4 separate regions of the Homo sapiens genome follow, and all the other regions are linked to region 2. The links come from fine-mapping of genetic effects on gene expression. A gene starts in region 2. Each other region holds a variant in brackets. All regions are shown on one strand. Distances are between the middles of the regions.

The links. PIP is the estimated chance that this variant, and not a neighbour inherited with it, causes the effect. A credible set is the group of variants that fine-mapping cannot tell apart.
Region 1: its variant is the best candidate, but not a certain one, in a credible set for the expression of ZMAT3 in CD4 T cells (CEDAR, PIP 0.57).
Region 3: its variant is the best candidate, but not a certain one, in a credible set for the expression of ZMAT3 in B cells (Fairfax 2012, PIP 0.88).
Region 4: its variant is the best candidate, but not a certain one, in a credible set for the expression of ZMAT3 in spleen (GTEx, PIP 0.85).

Annotation. Positions count from the first base shown.
Region 1 is chr3:179,019,541-179,024,540 of GRCh38, reverse strand. ZMAT3 (zinc finger matrin-type 3) reads left to right here. Exons shown (of 6, transcript NM_022470.4): 6 at 1-5,000. Among named protein-coding and RNA genes, the nearest start is that of ZMAT3, 50 kb to the left of the region's middle. The variant A/T (reference allele first, on the strand shown) is at 1,907.
Region 2 is chr3:179,068,904-179,073,903 of GRCh38, reverse strand. ZMAT3 (zinc finger matrin-type 3) reads left to right here and starts at 2,095. Exons shown (of 6, transcript NM_022470.4): 1 at 2,095-2,309. RefSeq lists silencers at 1,669-2,078, 2,219-2,368.
Region 3 is chr3:179,047,447-179,052,446 of GRCh38, reverse strand. The region is part of intron 2 of ZMAT3 (zinc finger matrin-type 3); the gene reads left to right. Among named protein-coding and RNA genes, the nearest start is that of ZMAT3, 22 kb to the left of the region's middle. The variant T/C (reference allele first, on the strand shown) is at 2,224.
Region 4 is chr3:179,033,351-179,038,350 of GRCh38, reverse strand. All of the region lies in intron 2 of ZMAT3 (zinc finger matrin-type 3), which reads left to right. Among named protein-coding and RNA genes, the nearest start is that of ZMAT3, 36 kb to the left of the region's middle. The variant G/A (reference allele first, on the strand shown) is at 2,992.

The DNA.
Region 1 (5,000 bases), 49 kb after region 2:
GCATTGTCAGTAGAATACATTATTAGAAACTGTTAAGGTCTTTCCCGGGACATTTTTTTCTGCCATTTTCTTTTGCAATTGTAGTTTTATGTACTGTTAAAGAATTGTATTGAATTCTTTTTAGATCAAAGTAAAAATAGGTCAGCAGAGATTTCAGTTTCCCAGGGCTTAACCAGAACCGCCACCTCAATGCATTGTCAGTAGGATACATTATTAGAAACTGTTAGGGTCTTTCCCAGGACATTTTTTTTTCTGTATCATGTCTCCCCATCATTGAAGCGCAAATTTTCTTGAATTCAAATACTCCCAATGAGCTTGTATACTTCCAAACAGCTAAACTTGATTTCCAGTTGTGGATTTCACACATATAATTGCCGCCTTCTTCCCTCCTCTTTTTTCCCCCCTAGTTGAATCAGCTTGTCTAACAAGCCCATTTTCATGCCCCAGCTGTGCTGTGGGTTTTCCAAGCCTCATATTTGAATATTCAATGAGTTTAAGATGGATATGATTTCAAAAAATAGGGCCGGGCGCGGTGGCTCACGCCTGTAATCCCAGCACTTTGGGAGGCCGAAGCAGGCGGATCACGAGGTCAGGAGGTCGAGATCATCCTGGCTAACACAGTGAAACCCCATCTCTACTAAAAATACAAAACATTAGCCGGGCGTGGTGGTGGGTGCCTGTAGTCCCAGCTACTCTGGAGGCTGAGGCAGGAGAATGGCGTGAACCCGGGAGGCGGAGCTTGCAGTGAGCCGAGATCGCGCCACTGCACTCCAGCCTGGGTGACAGAGCGAGACTCCGTCTCAAAAAAAAAAAAAAAAAAAAAAAAAAAATATATATATATATAGATATATTTTCCAGCAGTTTTTAGGAAACAAAGGTGTGTTTGATTTTCCAATTTAGAGTTACTTCATTGATAGTAACATGCGCTTATATCATGATCTAAACCATAAGTTCAGATTGCTTGATATTTTGTTTTGCCAGACTTTTTTGATAATCTGATTCTTACGGTTTACTTACATTTTCCTCTGTCTTGCCAGTCTGGTGGCCATCCTGAAAAATATCACCACCTGCTGTTTTATACACAGAGGAATTTTTTAAAAAGCAAATAAAGTTTCACTATCTTCGTTTCCAGTAGAAATATACACGAACTATGGTTTTATTCTTTGTAATTCGGCTTTCTTGAAGATACTAACAAGTATATGATAGATCACTTTGGCATCTGATAATTATATCAGTATTATTATTTTTGTTTTTTTGCGTTTAAAATAAGAAGTTGTATGAACCCAGGAGGTGGAGGTTGCAGTCAGCCAAGAATCGTGCCACTGCACTCCAGTCTGGGCGACAGAGCAATACTCCGTCTCCAAAAAAAAAAAAAAAGAAGCTATAATATATATCTAGATTAACTAATGGAGTGCTCTGTGAATATTCATTAACTACATTTTATCTATTTACTATATTTTATATGGGTAAGACCAGTGGTCATCCGTATTTCTTTTGAAAGCCCACTTGATCAGGAAGTTTATATTTTAAGCAGTATGTTTGCACAATGGTCAGTTCACATTTGATTGCTTGTATTACTAATTAGAGGTAAAACTTCTATTTTTTCTTGATAATTCTGTAGGCAAAAAAAATTGGGGAAGGCAAATTACAATCATTCTTCTTCTGTAATACTTTGGGACAATTTTTAAACAACTCAGACCCATGTTTAAAAACGAGTTTTGTGTGATTAACCCTTGTATAGTATCCAGTTACTGTCTTCTCTTGAAGTGGTGGTTCTTTGAGAAGTAGAATTATTTTGTAACTTTTCTTCTCCCAGAAACAGAAGAATCAAATACTATTCTGTTAGGATTCTATCTAGACCTGTGACTCTTAGTATAATAACCCTTTTATTATTATTATTATTATT[A/T]TTTTTTCAGTAATCTATAAAGTAGAGTTGCTTAGTTTTGAGCAATTTAGGGCTTTTCTTATTGGCCAGTAGGTTATTCATTTTGCTGCTAAATATAATTTTTTGGTTAATTTTAACATTATAGTGCTGGCCGCTTGGTTCTATGATTACCTAAAAATCTAGTTTTTTTCCTCCATAGGTAGATGTGTGTGTATGCATACCCCCACACACACACGTACATATATGTTGTCATAGAGAGGTATTTCAACCCTTATTTCAAATAACAGTAGAAGATACGAACATGAATTTATATTTTGTAAAAATGTCATTCATCCACTTTGTTTTCCATTGGAAATAGTTTTATAAGAAGGGTTCCCCTTGCTCTCTCCACTTAACAATTTCATTATATACGTAGAAAAAGCAGCCGACTTAAGGGCTTGATGTTTTTTCAGGCCTTGTGGATTCAGGTTTCCAGTTTCCCAGTGCCCTTAATGGATGTTATGAATGCATAAGCACATTTTCTTTTAAAGAAAGAAGTTAGATTTATAGTGTTATTTCTTACTTGCTATATTTCTTTGCACTAAAAAAGAGCTATGTGTTTGTTTTATAGGACACTTTAGTACCGTATTGCCTACAATAACTCAGTTTGCTCCTTAAATTCCAAACTCTGGGAAGTTGATAAATAACTTCCATGATCACTTGTAAAAGTTACATGCACATCTGAAAAAAAATCACAAATCTCTATGACAGTAGGTTATGTTTTGAGCTTGTTACCTTGCAGTATTCTTCTCTGTTCCATAGGTGAAAACAAAGGGTGACAGAGGTTATCAGGCAGGAAATGCCTAAATAGATACATCTCTGCATGGTACAATTTCTCATATTCATGTATTCCATAAACAGTGTTTTTTCTCTGTTTAAGCAGACTGTTGTTTCTTCTGAGTCAGTGATATGTGATCTTCGTTGGTTTCATTTTGTGAAGCTCAGTCTGTCTCTGTAACATACTTTAGGATTTGCACCTTGTGCTCCCCAGGAATTATGTTAGTGTCCTTTTCTATGCTGTCTTCAAGGATGGACAGAGGCCTAAACCACAACAACAACAAAAATTAGAAAAAAAAATACTTAGATTTCGGTAATCATCCATAGGAACTCATAGCATCAGTCTCTTTTCTCTGTGAATAATATCTTTGTGTAAGTTGTCATAAAAAATCAACGTTAGAAGATGACAATTAGAATTCTTCTTAGGTATTGAGGGTAAGAAGTTGTAAAGAAAGAAAATTCGTGTTTCAACTAAAAGATTGGATTGCATATACCTTTGAAGTGGTTTTGTAAAAAAAGTTCAGTTACTAAACTGAGTGTGCCCTGTAATCCTTTTGAGTGCACTGAAGATGCTTTGAAAATACTTTGTTGGTCTTCACATTGTGCATCATGTCCTGCAACTTGTAAATATGTGCATGTTGTTTATGTTTGTCTGCCTGTCTCTTATTGCACTAAATTCTGCAAGGTGAATAATTTTTTTATACCATTTATTTGGAAAAAGTTCCTCCTCCAACTCTTCTTCACTGACCTTTTAATTAGTTGGTAAACTTAGAAAACCAGGTAGGATTTTTGAAGCCCTGAGTTTAAAAGAAGAATCGTGGCTATTTGACATCATCCTTACATTCCCCTGACTTAAAAAGCTAACAAGAAGCACGAGATCTTCCACCTCATTTTAGAAAGCTTTTCTACAGAACTATATGCTTGCTTATAGCTACCTATCTACAGTTTGAACAGGGAGAAAGGGAGATATGTATGTCTGGTTACATCTTCCTTCACTCTTGAATTGGCTGGGACAGCAAGCAACAACAGTTTGAGGTCCAGTGACCTACGTAAAATGAGTGTCGTTTGTGTCAGGGGACACATGTAACTGTGCAACATGGTATTTTCTACAGGGAGGGCTAGGAAGGGTGGTTTTGGAACCTAACCTACTTTGTGTCTTCATTGTCAGAACTAAGGTTGGAAATGCCCTTTAAAGAACTTGGTGAGGCATATGCTAGGACAATAGAGCTGCTTTAGAAAGAAATTGAGACATGTTTTGTCAGGACAGATAAAAGTTTAATGCAGGCTTTTGAACAGATGTTTTAAAACAAATTTGACCTTACCAACTATTTTTTTCTTCTAGCCAAATCATTGTACAGGAGTTTCATATATGATAAAAAGTGTTTTGTTATTGTTTTTGCTTTCTTGGCAGGGGAGAACCCCTACCATTGTGAGCAGTTACTGTCACTCTGGCTGAATGGACAAATAGCTGTGTAAATAGCTTCTCATAAAACGCTTCTACTGATAGCTGTTTGACTTTTTCTTCCCGTTATGAATGGGAGGAACATTTGTAAACTTCCTTTCTGGGTAGCTACCAAAAAACGTACTGGCTTATGGTCCCATGTGACCTTGTCTCCGTTAAGCCCAGAATCTGAGTGCCTTTAGCAAGTGTTAGCATTTCACAGAGAGAAGAGAGACAGAATTATTGCTATTAATCACCATTCATAAATAGGAGCTTGGAATAACAAAGGTCTGTGTGAATTCTGTTCTACGTCTTTTTTTTCCCTTTTTTAAATAAATGTCAATTTGATATCAAGTAAAACTATTGTCATTATTGATCAGAAACCATACATTCTGAAAATGAATCCAGTTTTCCCAAGCTGGCAGAAGTCAGAGATCATTTTTCACCTTGATCTGTGTTGCGTTTGTACTTAGTGAATGGCAGTGTGGTTGATTGGAAGAGCTTGACACTGATGTTTGGAAAAATTCTTTATTCTAGTGGTCATTTTCAAACTTGTCTTCTGTAGAGAGGGGAAAAATTATGTATTTGCAGCTAAAGCGAAGAGACTGGCACAATAATTATTAATTGTGTTAGTTCATTTCTATATTAAATGAAGCATCTTCACAAATCAGGTTTGAAGCCATTAAAAGCAAAATTTTCCCTAGTTTAATTAATTTAAAATTCTAAATTGCCTGACTACTTAGAATCTTAGAAACGCCCTGCTAGACTGATTTTATTATAGAAATGTTAACATGTTCCTCAACATTTTCTCAAGAAAATTTTCAGACATATATCAAAGTTGAAAAAACTTTGCAGTAT
Region 2 (5,000 bases):
TTATGAGACTACTGTCACTGCCATGAGCTTCAAATATCTATTACACAAGCATCAGATTTGCCTTTTCTTTCTCCCCGAGGCAGGGAAGGAAATGCCCTAGCTGTCTGAGAAGAGTATGTGAGCAGAGAACATGGAATTGTTCAGATTTTCATCCTGATGGACAAGAACACATCAAACTATCAAACATAAAACTTGAAAACTCCAAGACATTTATCCTTCCTGGACTCAAGGTATTTACAGGGCAGAGGAAATATCTCTTAAGTAATTATAATGTGGGACAACAAATAGTGTGTCATCAAGGTGTGCGGAGAAAAGTGCTGTGGGACCTCATGAAAGAAGAGGCCTGGAAGGACAGGTAGGATTTGACAATTCAAGGGGAGGGGAGAGAAAGCATTTTGTATTCAAGATGCAGACAGAGCTAAATTACAGAGGCAGGAAATGAAGGGGCATGGATGGGGGTGTGAGTGAAATGATGAGGGGAGACTGGTGGAAGGTCAGATCGGAAAGGCTCCGCAAGGCCTACTTGTGGTCCTAGATAAGGAGTGTGGACTGTGAAGTTCTAAGACTGGCTAAAGACCATATAGAAAAGGGGCTGGAGAGTGGATTTTAGCAGCATTTATTATTTTAGAAACAATATAGCCCTTTAAAATAGTGACACATAAAGTAAATGTACCTATACAGCTGGAAAAACAATTCAGGTGATGGATTACTCTCCCCAAATGGCTGGTGTACACTGTGTGTATATGTTTGTACTTCATATTCATTGTACTTATGAAGTCTTTTATGGTTTGTTGTTGTTGGTATTGGATTGGTGCATTTTTCAGCCAAAGAAACAGCCTTGATTTCCTGCAGTTGTTTCCCTACTAATAGGGCACATCTTACTATACTTAGATCTCCTTGGCATTTTAATTCGTGTTTTAAAAAATAACCACACAATAATGCAAATGTACTTAATGCCACTGAACTGTACTTTTTTTTTTTTTTTTTTTGAGACGGAGTCTCGCTCTGTCACCCAGGCTGGAGTGCAGCGGCGCGATCTCGGCTCACTGCAAGCTCCGCCTCCCGGGTTCACGCCATTCTCCTGCCTCAGCCTCCCGAGTAGCTGGGACTACAGGCGCCCACCACCACGCCTGGCTAATATTTTTGTATTTTTAGTAGAGATTGGGTTTCACCGTGTTAGCCAGGATGGTCTCGATCTCCTGACCCCGTGATCCACCCGCCTCGGCCTCCCAAAGTGTTGGGATTACAGGCGTGAGCCACCGCGCCCGGCCTGTACTCTTAAAGTAGTATATTTGTTATCGTTTGCCACACACAAAAATAATACCCCAGCAGATCTTCATACGAGTTAATTTACGCTATAAGTTTAGAGCCGGAATTTCCTCAGCTCATCACTCAGTGTTAACATTGAAGATGTCCAGGTTGGTTATGAAGGATGTGACATCCTAGCGTTGGCCACTCTTTTCCTGGTCCTTCCTGTCTTGCAGGTGAGCCTCTGGGGGTCAGGAGAAAGTCTCCTCTATCTCCTGCTCACTTTCGTGTAGGGGAGGGAAGGTGTGTGTGTGGGTGGGTGGGGGCGTTTTGTGTGAGGGAGGCCGATACTGGGCAGGCAGCCACGCTCTTCTTCCTCCATCCTGGGGCGGAAGTGGGGAGAGCAGCAGTTTAAAGGTTCTGTTGCAGCAGTTTAAAGGATCCACTCAGCCGCCTTAACCGCCAACCAGCAGGCTAAGGGAGGAACAGAATGAACAATGTTTGGATCCCAATGACTGGAGATGAAAGTTGCAAAAGCTCTGCCCAGGCTTCTACCAAGGATTAACTTTCCAGGGCATCTGCTGAACTGCTCTTCGGGGCTGTCTGCTGAGATTGGCGGCGGGACCCTCCCGCCTCTCACTCGTGCCTTTGTTCCCCACGCCGGCCTAACCCCGCGCCCCTGCGCTCGCGGCCAGGGCACCTGACCCACGCGCCGCCCGCCGGGGATGCGGGAGCCGCCACTGCTACCGCTGCCACCGCTGCCGGGCCTGCTCCGCCAAGCACATGCGCAGTGGCGACGCCGAGCCGGCGCCCTCAGTCTCCTCCTCCACCGCCTCCCGGTTCCGCAGTCACTTCCTGCAGCTGTTTCCCTGTGGGTCGGGTTGGACTGACTTTTGACAGTCAGCCTTCGGCTGCGGAGGGGGCTCGGCGGCGGCCGGCGGAGAAAGTTGCTCCGAGAAGAGGCTGGGTCGAGCTGGGCCGAGCCGGGCGCGCAGGGCGGGCGTCGCGGGCGTCCCGGGCGGACGCGGCGCGGAGACTGCCGGCGCGTCCCGGGGGTTCCGGTAAGTGCGGGCGATTGGGAGCCGCGGAGCTTTCAGGACGAGCCCCTGGAGCGCCGGGGACTAGCGGTTCCTTTCCGATGCTCTTTCCATCTGCCCTCCACGTGACAGGGCTTGCGCTGCTTCTATTTATCAGTTTGCTTGTTTCAGGCATTTCACGTGGACCAGGTGGATCATCTGTGCGTGCAGCTGCCTTGGCCCTCTCAGTTGCCCCCGCCCCGTGGGAGTCGGGGGATTCCATCCTTCGTGATGGCATCCATACCGGGTTGAGGTGCGTGTGTGGGTTCGTGTGTATGCATGCACATCTTAGGAATGTAAGGTGGATGTGGGCGACGCTGAACTGTCTGTAGCTTTGATTCAAATCTGTAAACAGTTCTCTAGGATTAGGAACCGTCACAGCGGAGACTGAAAAACATTCGCCAATTCACCAAGGCCTCTTCCCCAGTTTTCTGCGTTCTTTTGAGCCTTCTTTATAGGATACACCTTGCCTCAAGTGATTATTATTATTATTTTTTTTAACTTTTCTCCCTCTCATTCCTTCTTGCTGCGTTCTGATGACCTCTGAGTAATGCTCGCTGCCTTTCCCTCATTTCCAGAATTCCCAATTACAGACTTACCTAGTTTGCTGAGGTGCTCCTAACCTGTTCCTTTATTCTATTCTCTTTCCTCTGTAGATTTCTCCAAATGAGACAAGAGATTGTCTTTAACACAGTATGTGAAGAGTAGGCCCCAGTCCAATCATTAAAACTAAGTATGCTATGACAATTAATTTTCTTTAAACAGGGTACCTTGTGAAGCTTTGATTTTCTTTAATGTCGTCTTAGCTCCTTTCCAAACCAGGACATTAACCAGCATAAATCCTTCATTTATGCCATCGCAAGCATCAAAGTGACTGGTTTTTAAGATTTGAAGAATATTTATGCCAGTCTTCAAATTAGTCCCTTTTAAACCAATGCAACAGTTGAACAGATCTGAGTTGCATGTTTTGGGTCTCTGTATTCCATCATTCATGCATTCACTGAAGACTTGGTTTTATTCATTTTAAGATTTATATTTTATACTAATTTTTGTTTGCAAATGTACTAATATTTGATGCAATTGTCATACATAGATTTTTTTGAGGAGTCGACATTGTGTTGATTGTTAAATATAACAAGAAATAAATTTGGGATATCAAGCTACTCTTTAAAAATTGTAAAGATCAAATGTGATAATGGGTAAATCTGTGTTTGGCAAGAATTTTTTCTTTAAATCAGGTAACTGTCACCTCTGGTAGGAGGCCTTTTGTGCCTCTGTTCTTTGAGAAGGATCTTTATTTTGAGGGAAACCTGTAGATAACACTGGGGGAGACACATGCTAGAATTTCCTCAAGTGAAAGTGAGCTTTCATAAAACAAGTCCAGACATGCCTAGGCAATTGGTAGCATTTGATTTTCTGTTTATATTGCTGATTTCCTTTATCCAGAGGTTTTGACACCCCCCCCCACCTTTTCACTAATGAACTAGCAGAATGTTTGTGGCAATTTGACATCAGTAGCTTTTCAACATTATGAATTATTATTATTAGGTAGTTAAACTTTTTAAAAGCTGTTCTTTGTCTACTTAGTTCCGTTTTCTAAAATGACCATATCTGTCTTTGCTTTCTGGACTATCTTTGCTTGATTCAATTAAGAGAAATAATACCATTACAGAGAACCTGACTTTTTAAATGTTAAAACTCTATATTGCTTTTCTTTTATGTTCCCAGAGATATGGGCAGTACACTTCTGCTTAAAAATTAAATAATATTATCATTTTTCTAAATTTTGTGATTAATGAGAAGTATTGTTAAATTCTATGACTAATACTTATGCACTTTGTCCTTAACTACATTATTTTCCCATCACGCTGATTTCCTTTGTTGCCTCCCCACCCCAAATTTCGTCTGAAAGTTGTTACTTGATTTTCAGGTGCTGTGTAGTTATCAAATATGGTAAAATAGACTTTAACTTTTCAAAATTTACTTGATTCATTTTAGTAATTCTATTATTGCCATAATGTACACATTTCCATTGCAGATGGAAAATTTCAGCAGCTTAAAATAGCCATATTCTATTGACCAAGAGAAGAGGTTTTAATAATACTGTATTGAGAGAGTGGAGGGAATTGTGGATTTTGAAATAAGGATTCTAATTTGGGTTAATTAGAATCTTGGGAACTCAAAGGGTGTACTGTGGTTCATTTTGAGACACTCAGGGTTAGACGGCGCCATCTGGGGGGGAGGCAGGAGACATTATGGATAAAGATTGAAGAGGGAGAGGAACATTTTGGGTCTTTTCTGAGGGAATTATAATAGAGACTATCAGTTATTTGTTAAGAAGGAGGAGGGAAATAGCCTCAAGATTGAGGAACTGGAATTATACTGTGGCTTATGGTGGTGTGATCCATTACTCCATTGGACATTTCCTTGATACCTTATTTTGTGTAGGTAATTTACCTAGAGAAGGAGGAAAAATTTGGGTTTTACAGGGGCTGATGAATATAATCTAAGGCTGTATGAGGCAGGGCTGTAAACTCAAGAGCTCACAGAGAACAGGCAAGTAACAAGTACAGGCAGCAGCTGAGTGGGGACTGAGGTGTCCCAGAGAAGGCAGGCCTCGCTAGAGGGCACAGTGCCTCTGAGCACTAACTAGCTAATTGCGTCCCATATAGGAAT
Region 3 (5,000 bases), 21 kb after region 2:
ATCATGTTGTAGTTTCGATTTACATTTCTCTGATAATTAGTGATGTTGAGCATTTTTTTCATATGTTTATTGCCCATTTGTATATCTTCTTTTGAGAATTGTCTATTCATGGCCTTAGGCCACTTTTTGATGGTATTGTTTGTTTTTTGTTGCTGATTTGTTTGAATTCCTTGTAGACTGGATATTAGTTCTTTGTTGGATGTGTAGATTGCAAAAATTTTCTCCTACTCTATGGGTTGTCTGTTTACTCTGCTGATTATTTCTTTTGCTGTGCAGAAGCTTTTTAGTTTAATTAAATCTCATCTATTTATCTTTATCTTGTTGAAGTCTTTGCTTAAGTCAATGTCTAGAAGAGTTTTTCCAATGTTCTAGAATTTTTATGGTTTCAGGTTTTAGATTTAAGTCTTTGATCCATCTCTAGTTGATTTTTGTATAAGGTGAGAGATGAGGATCCAGTTTCGTTATTCTACGTGCGACTTGCCAATTATCTCAGCACCATTTGTTCAATAGAGTGTCCTTTCCCCACTTTATGTTTTTGTTTGTTTTGTTGAAGATCAGTTGACCGTAAGTATTTGGCTTTATTTCTGGGTTCTCTATTCTGTTTTATTGGTCTAAATGCCTGTTTTTATACCAGTACCATGCTGTTTTGGTGACTGTAGCCGTATGCTATAGTTTGAAGTCAGGTAATGTAAGACCTCTAGATTTGTTCTTTTTGCTTAGTCTTGCTTTGGCTATGCAGGCTCTTTTTTGGTTCCATATAAATTTTTTTCTAGTTCTGTGAAGAATGATGATGGTATTTTGATGAGAATTGCATTGAATTTGATGATGGTATTTTGATGGGAATTGCATTGAATTTGTGGATTGCTTTTTGCAGTGTGGTCATTTTCACAACACTGATTCTACCCATCATGAGCATGGTTTGTGTTTCCATTTGTTTGTGTCATCTGTTATTTCTTTCAGCAGTGTTTTGTACTTTTCTTTGTAGAGGTCTTTCAGCTCTTTGGTTAAGTATATTCCTATGTATTTTATTTTATTTTTTTTGTAGGTATTGTAAAAGGGGCTGAGTTCTTGATTTGATTCTCTGCTTGGTAGCTGTTGGTGTATAGTGGTGTATAGCAGAGCTACTGATTTGTATATATTAATTTTGTATCCTAAAACTTTGCTGAATTCATTTACCAGTACCAGAAGCTTTTTGGATAAGTCTTTAGGGTTTTCTAGATACACAATCATTTTCATTAGCAAACAGTGACAGTTTGACTTCCTCTTTATTGATTTGGATGCCCTTTATTTCTTTCTCTTGTCTGATTGCTCTGGCTAGGACTTCCAGTACTAGGGTGAATAGAAGTGGTGAAAGTGGGCATCCTTGTCTTGCTCCAGTTCTCAGGGGGAATGCTTTCAACTTTTCCGCATTCAGTATAATGTTGGCTGTGGGTTTGTCATAGATGGCTTTTATTACCTTAAGGTGTGTTTCTTCTATGCTGATTTTGCTGAGGGTTTTAACCATAAAGGGATGCTAGATTTTGTCAAATGCTTTTTCTGTGTCTATTGAGGTGATCATATGATTTTTGTTTTTAATTCTTTTATGTAGTGTATCACATTTATTGACTTGAGGATGTTAAACCATCCCTAGATGTAAAACCATCCCTAAATCCCTGGTGTGAAACCCACTTGATCATGGTGGATTATCTTTTTGATATGCTGTTGGATTTGCTTAGCTAGTATTTTGTTGAGGATTTTTGCATCTGTGTTCATCAGGGATATTGGTCTGTAGTTTTCTTTTATTTGGAATATCCTTTCCTGGTTTTGGTGTTAGGGTGATATGGACTTCATAGAATGATTTCGGGAGGATTCCCTATTTCTTTGTCTTTTGGAGTAGTGTCAGTAGGATTGGTACCAGTTCTTCTTTGAATGTCTGATAGAATTCAGCTGTGCATCTTTCTGGTCTTGGACTTTTTTTTTTGTTGGTAACTTTTTAATTACCATTGCAATCTTGCTGCTTGTTATTGGTCTGTTCAGTTTCTATGTATTCTTGGTTTAATCTAGGAGGGTTGTATATTTCTACCCATCTCCTTTAGGTTTTCTAGTTTATGCACATAAAGGTGTTCATAATAGCCTTGAATGATTTTTTGTATTTCTGTGGTATTTGTTGTAATATCTCCCATTTCATTTCTAATTGAGCTTATTTGGATTTTCTCTCTTATTTTCTTGGCTAACCTCAATAAT[T/C]GTTTATTAGTTTTATTTATCTTGTCAAAAAACCAACCTTTTGTTTCACTTAATCTTTTGTATTTTTTTTGTTTCAATTTCATTTAGTTCTGTTCTGATCTTGACTATTTCTTTTCTTCTGCTGGGTTTGGGTTTGGATTGTTTTGTTTCTCCAGTTCTGTGAGGTGTGACCTTACATTGTCTATTTGTGTTCTTTTAGGCTTGGCTTTTTTTTTTTTTTTTTTTTTTTTTTGAGACGGAGTCTTGCTCTGTCACCCAGACTAGAGTGCAGTGGCGCGATCTTGTCTTACTGCCAGCTCTGCCTCCCAGGTTCATGCCATTCTCCTGCCTCAGCCTCCCGAGTAGCTGAGACTACAGGCGCCCACCACCACGCCCAGCTAATTTTTTGTATTTTTAGTAGAGACGTGGTTTCACCATGTTAGCCAGGATGGTCTTGATCTCTTGACCTCGTGATCCGCCTGCCTTGGCCTCCCAAAGTGCTGGGATTACAGGCATGAGCAACCATGCCCAGCCCCTTTCAAACTTTTTGATGTAGGCAGTTAATGCTATTAGCACTGCCTTTGCTGTATCACAGAGGTTTTCATAGGTTGTATCACTATTATCGTTCAGTTCAAATAATTTTTTAATTTCCATCTTGATTTTATTGTTGACCCAACAATCATTCAGGAGCAGGTTATTTAATTTCCATGTATTCGCATGGTTTTGAGGGTTTCTTTTGGAGTTGATTTCCAATTTTATTCCACTGTGGTCTGAGAAAGTACTTGCTATAAGTTCGATTTTCTTAAATTTGTTGAGACTTGTTTTGTGGCTATCATATGGTCTACCTTGAAGAATGTTCCATGTGCTGATGAATAGAATGTATATTCTGCAGTTGTTGGGTAGGATCCTCTGTAAATATCTGTGAAGTGCATTTATTGTAACGTATAGTTTATTGTTTCTTTGTTGACTTTCTGTCTTAAAGACCTGTCTAGTGCTGTCAGTGGAGTATTGAAGTCCCCCACAATTATTGTATTGCTGTCTATCTCATTTGTTAGGTCTAGTAGTAATTGTTTTATAAGTTTGGAAGCTCCAGTATTAGGTGCATATATATTTAGGATTGTGATGTTTTCCTTTTGGACTAGTCCTTTTATTATTGTATTATGTCCCTCTTTGTCTTTTTTAACTGCTGTTGCTTTGAAGTTTATTTTGTCTCAAATAAGAATAGCTACTCCTGCTCACTTTTGTTGTCCATTTGCATAGAATATCTTTTTTCACCCTGTTACCTTAAGTTTATGTGAGTCCTTATGTATCACGAGTCTCTTGAAGATAGCAGATACTTGGTTGGTGAATTCTTATCCGTTTTGCCATTTGGAATATTTTAAGTGGAGAATTTAGGCAATTTGCATTCAATGTTAATATTGACATGTGAAGTACTATTTTGTTCATTGTGCTGTTTTTTTTTTTTTTTTGCCTGAATACCTTGGGTTTTTTTCCATTGTGTTATTTTATAGGTCCTGTGAGATTTATGCTTTAAGGATTTCCTATTTTTGTGTATTTGGAGGATTTGTTTCAAGATTTAGAACTCCTTTTAGTAGTTCTTGTAATGCTGGCTTGGTAGTGGCAAATTCTCTCAGAAGTTTTTTGTCTGACAAAGACAGTATCTTTCCTTCATTTATGCAGCTTAGTTTCACTGGATACAAAGTTCTTGGCTGATAATTGTTTTGTTTAAGAAGGCTAAAGATAGGACCCCAGTCCCTTCTAGCTTGTAGGGTTTCGGCTGAGACATCTGCTGTTAATCTGATAGGTTTTCCTTTATAGGTTACCTGATGCTTTTGCCTCACAGCTCTTAAGATTCTTTCTTTCATCTTGACTTTAGGTAACCTGATGACTGTATGCCTAGGCGATGATCTTTTTGCAATGAATTTCCTAGGTGTTCTTTGAGCTTCTTGTATTCGGATGTCTAGATCTCTAGCAAGGCTGAGGAAGTTTTCCTCAATTATTCCCTCAAATATGTTTTGCAAACTTTTAGATTTCTCTTCTTCCTCAGGAACAGCAATTATTCTTAGGTTTGGTCGTTTATCGTAATCTCAAACTTCTTCGAGGCTTTGTTCATTTTTTAAAAATTCTTTTTTCTTTGTCTTTATCAATTTGGGTTAATTCAAAAGCCTTATATTTGAGCTCTGAAGTTCTTCTACTTGTCCGACTCTATTGCTGAGACTTTTCAGTGCATTTTGCATTTCTCTGAGCGTGTCCTTCATTTCCAGAAGTTGTGATTGTTTTTTATTTATGCTATCTATTTCACTGAACATTTTCCATTCATACCTGTATTATTTTTTGATTTATTTAAGTTGGACTTCACCTTTCTCTGGTGCCTCCTTTTTTTTTTGAGACTGAGTCTTACTCTGTCACCCAGGCTGGAGTGCAGTCACATGATCTCAGCTCACTGCAACCTTTGCCTCCCGGACTGAAGTGATTCTCCTGCTTCAGCCTCCTGAGTAGCTGAGACTATAGGCGAGCACCACCACATCCGGCTATTTTTTTTTTTTGTATTTTTAGTAGAGATTGGGTTTCACCATGTTGGTCAGGCTGGTCTTGAACTCCTGACCTCAGGTGATCTGCCTGCCTCAGCCTCCCAAAGTGCTGGGATTACAGGCGTGAGCCACCACGCTCGGCCTGGTGCCTCCTTGATTGGATTAGTAGTTGACCTTCTGAATTCTTTTTCTGGCAATTCAGATATTTCACCTTGGTTTGGATCCACTGCTGGTGAGCTAAGGTGATCTTTTGGGGGTGTTAAAGAA
Region 4 (5,000 bases), 36 kb after region 2:
CCTCAGCCTCCCAAAGTGCTGGGATTATAGGCATGAGCCACTGTGCCTGGCCCTAGTTCCATGGTTTTAAATTCCACCTACATACTGATAACTCCTCAGATTCTATCTCTAACCTGACCTCGTTCGTAAACTCCAGGTTGGTCTCTCTTTGGACATCTGAAAGGGATCTCAGACTTAACACAGCAAGTGGGTCTCTTGATGCCCAGCTCTTCCCCCTTTCTCTACATTGCATGGCTGGAGCCATCTCATGCTTCAGCTTTTAGCTGACATGTATCTCCCCAGAAAAGCCTTGTCGGCCCACCCCACTCTCTCCCTGTCCATTATCTATTATATCATCCTGTTTTATTTTTTGCAGAGCAGTTGTCAGTAACTCTTTTTTCTTTGGTTGTGTGTGTGTACATATATATATGTACATGTATATATTCTGTTTATGTCCCCTAGAAAAGCTTCTTGAGGGCAGAGACTTTGCCTTTGTTCACTGTTTTATCTCCTTTTCTTAGAATGGTTGCCAGAACATAGAGGGTAGTCAGTAACTATTTAACCCTGTTATCTTCCGCCAGAGTTGTAGATTCAAATTCTCACCTGTTTTTAGAAGACTTCTAAACCTTCTTAGCCTTGACTTCCTTAGTGCTAATGTTGCAGCTTTTGTAGTTCAGCAAGCGGGAGGAAATGGCACACTGGCTTTTTTTCCCCGTTGCTCAGTGAGCAGGAGGGAGGGTTGCAGTGTAAGGATTCCTTTGGTGCTGCTTCACCAGCCGGAAATCTCTGTGGGTGCTGTGTCCTCTGCCTGGGGCCTCATTCCACCGAGCTCACTCCGCCCACTCAGCCTGGCAGGCTGTGCTCGGCTTGTGCCTTGGCCTGGATCCTGCGCCCGCTGAGGGATCTGCACTCAGCCCATGGCTCCACTGGGTGTGTTGCCAGCAGCTTCTGCATTGGGTGTCGTTGTCTAGATGAGGGGAATGTGGGTGGTGCCCGAAAACTCAGAGATGTCAGTAATGGCAGAGTCCCAAGGGGTGTTACAGCTCTCATCCGGGGAGTCCCAAGATTTGACCTCCCAAGAAATGTTGCAGCTTTGTATTGTTCCTGCCACCTGCAGCTTGGCGAACAGGGGCATGTTACAGCTCAGTCGGTCCCACCACCCGCAGCTCAGTGAATGGGTGTGTGTTACAGGTTGGCCTATTCTGGGTTCTTCTCCTGCGACCAAGAGGAATAAGAGGAATAAGGTACATGGACACTGGAGAGTGAATAGGGTGGAGAAGAATTTCATTGAGCAATAGAAGGAAAGCTCTCAGCAGAGAGGGGGCCCAAGAGTGATTAGCCCTGTGTGTGAGAGGGGACCCAAAAGAGGTTTGCCATCTGTGGGGTTGAGTCTGGGATTTTTATGGGCTCAGAATGGGGGAGTGCGTGCTGATTGGTTCACGGGTCGGCTTGGAAAAAGCACCATTTGATTGCCTAAAAGGCATCGAGGAAGTTCTCACTCTCGTTGTGGACTCCACCTGCAACTGGCAGCTCAGTTTTCAGTCTTTAAACTGTCTTTGGCATGAGGTTGGGTTTCACAGGGACCCATCCCTGTCTGCCTAGGAATTTGTCTGTCTCCAGTTGCTGTCACTAAGCCACACATTGCACTGTCTCTTGGATTCATTAAGATGTCTTTCGGTTGTCTCAATCTCATATTGAGATTGAGATTGTTGACTCTATCTTCTTCCCCAAAGCCTTTTTTCCTCCCCACACCTTTAAAAATTTTTCATAAATATTTCCATCTACCCTGCGGTTCACCTCCCTTCTACCCTCTTATCCAATATGCTATTACTTGTTCTTACCTTCTTCATAGTTCCTGCGTCTTTCTCCTTTATCTAGCCATTATCTTGCTTGAGGCCCATTTTGCAAGCTGTTATCTGTCTCCACTCTGTCTAGGTGATAGTTTTTGGCTCCATAGCTTTAAATACCATCCACATTCAGATCATTCCTGAGAGTCTGTCTTCATCCTGACCACACTCTTGAACTCCAGTTTGGTTGTGGGCTTCTATGATAACATACTATCTGATTTTTATCTTACTTTTTGGCTAGACCTTGTCAATCTCATTTTCTGGATCTTCATTCTCTACTAGACTCTATGTTGTAGTGTCTAGGATTTTGTCCTTGACTCTCCTCTGTGTATCTTCCCAGCTTCCAGCTTTGGTCTGCTACCCTGATGCTCATCTTTATCAAATACAATCAAGTCATGCACTGCTTTGCTTAAAGTTCCTCAGAGGCTCCCTGCTGCCTCTGAAGTCCAAGTTCTTTATCATGGGCAAAGGCATTAAGAATGAGCCCCCTGTGTATTTCAATTTTTGCCTCTCCTCCAAAGGATCTAGAAGACCGTTATCTCTCCTTGTAGCCCCTCAACACAGAAGGCTGGGCTTTTGCTCATGCTATTTTCTTGGTGCACAGTTTTCTTTTTCCGTATTGCTTACCTCCCCTGTAAACATTTGCTCATTTAAAAAGATGAGTCAGTTGCCCCCTTTTCAGGGAAGTCTTCCGTGATACATTCAGGCAGGAGTAAGAAATTCCTTCTCTGTGTTCTCCTAGCAGTTTATTATCTTCATTATAATACTTGGTTCATTTATCCAACAGTTATTTATTGCTTGCTTGCTATATTCTGGAAACTATTCTAGGCATTGGGATTAGAACAGTAAACAAGACAGATGAGGTCCTCATTTTCAAGAAGTCTACATTACAGAGCGGAGGAAAGAGAAAAAAAAACAAGTCAACAAACTATATTATTTTAGATAGTGATTAGTGATACTAAGATAAAATAAAACCGGCCAGTGTGGTAATATGATGGAGTGTGTGTGGTGTGGAGAGGGGGAGTGGTTGTGACACTTGAGAGTGAGTGAGGTCCAGTTTGAGTTGAGACTTGAAAGATTAGAAGGAGCAATCCATACAGAGATCTGCAAGAGGTACATTCTAGGCAAAAGGAACAGTTAAGTACAAAGGCCTTGGAGCTAGCCT[G/A]AGCTTGGCATGTTTAAGGAGCACATGCAGCCTAGTGAGCCAGGAGCATAATGAGCAGGGGAAAGGAAGGAGTGCTGTCTGACATAAGGCCCAAGAGATAGACGGGGCCAGATCATGTAGGGCCTTATAGGTAAGATTTGTCAATTAGATGGGGCCAGAACATGTAGGGCCTTATAGGTGAGATTTGTCAGTTAGACAGGGCCAGATCGTGTAGGGCCTTATAGGTAAGATTTGTCAATTTTAAGTATAGCAGAAAGCCATTGGAAGAGTTTTATGTGAGGGAGTGACATGGAACTGATTCATGTCAAGAATTATTACTTGGGTTTATAATGAGGAGAATTCTAGGAGGACAAGATTAACAGCAGAGACCAATTAGGAGTTGTTACCTACTGCAAATGACCACTGTTACCTACTGCAAATGAAAAATGTTGGTACCTTGGATTACTGTGGTATTTGTAGTATCCATGGAGAGAAGTGGAGTGATGTGGGATGTATTTTGAATGACAAGACTTGCTGATGGGTTGAATGTGTTGGGCTTAGGGAAGGATGGAATCAGGAAAAGGACCCCTTGGCTTTTCTTGGGTAATTTTGTGGATGGTGGTGCCATTTACCTACTGTGGATGACTAGTGGTGGTGGTGATGGTGGTGATGAGAAAGTTCTATGGAGGAGGAATCAAAAGTTGTTTTAAGTTGGATATGCCTCTTAAGACGTGAAAGTATGGATGACCAGGAGGAAGCTGGATATGTGGTTCTGAAGGTCAAAGATGGAGATTGATGATTTGGGGAGTCACCAACTTACTCATGGTATTTGAAAGCTATAGGTCTGGGTAGAATAACCTAGAGTCAGAGAATAAAAGAGGGCTAAGGGTGCGTCCTTGGACATTGTAGAGTTTAGAGGTCTGATAGAGGAGGAGAGGTGGGGAGGGAAGAAGGAGTATAGATGATAGTAGGAGGAATGTTTCAAGAAGGAAATGAACTGTGTCATGCTACTTTGAGTTCCAGTAAGATGAAGGCACATATGTGACCACTGGATTTGACTCTGGAGTTCACTGTGACCATGGTAAAAGCACCTTTAGGGTATTGAAGTGAGGAGAAGATGGATCTTAGTTCATTACTCTATTTAGCTGCTTAGGTATCTGTCTCCTCCTCTATGTGCTAGTCCTTAGTTTATTTCTAGGGCTTAGCATATAAATAGATGGTGAATAAATGTTTGCCTGCAGGTTTGAGTTTTACAATGCAGTTTAAAGAATAATATACTGTTTTACCCTTATTTAGAATGCTTTTGTACTATTGACCCTTGCCACTAGTTTGTGTCAGTTCAAGGAATATAATCATGTGACTAATAAAACGTGATGAGAAAGGCAAGTTGATGTTAGTAGAGGTTCCTAGTGCATCTTGAAGCCATCATGCTGTAGTGGAAAAGGGCCATTCTTTGATTTGGAAGGCCTGTCTCAGGCTTTGGCTGTGCTATTTAGCCCTTGAGAAGGGAGCTGGGGGCAAGCTCCTTACAGTCTCTGGATTGCAGTTCCTTGGCTGTCATAAATGGACAATATTAACAAATTCCTCTTACAAGATTTTTGTGAGCAGCAAATGAATAAATGCAATGAACATCCTTTGTAAGTAAAAAGATACTCTGTAAGGGCAATTTTAAAAGAATAATTGGATTATCCATTTCATTACTAACTTATAAAGTACATTAGATCAGAGTGTCATGAAATTCATATTTATCTGTGGCATATAAATGGCAAGAAGTTGGGTGAGGACATAAGTCACTGGAAAATGTGATACTTCTTTTTTTTTTTTCCTAAAATCCCATATTCTTTTCTTTTCTTTTCTTTCTTTCCTTTTTTTTAAAATTTTTTTAGTATTTATTGATCATTCTTGGGTGTTTCTCGGAGAGGGGGATTTGGCAGGGTCATAGGACAATAGTGGAGGGAAGGTCAGCAGATAAACACGTGAACAGAGGTCTCTGGTTTTCCTAGGCAGAGGGCCCTGCCGCCTTCCGCCTT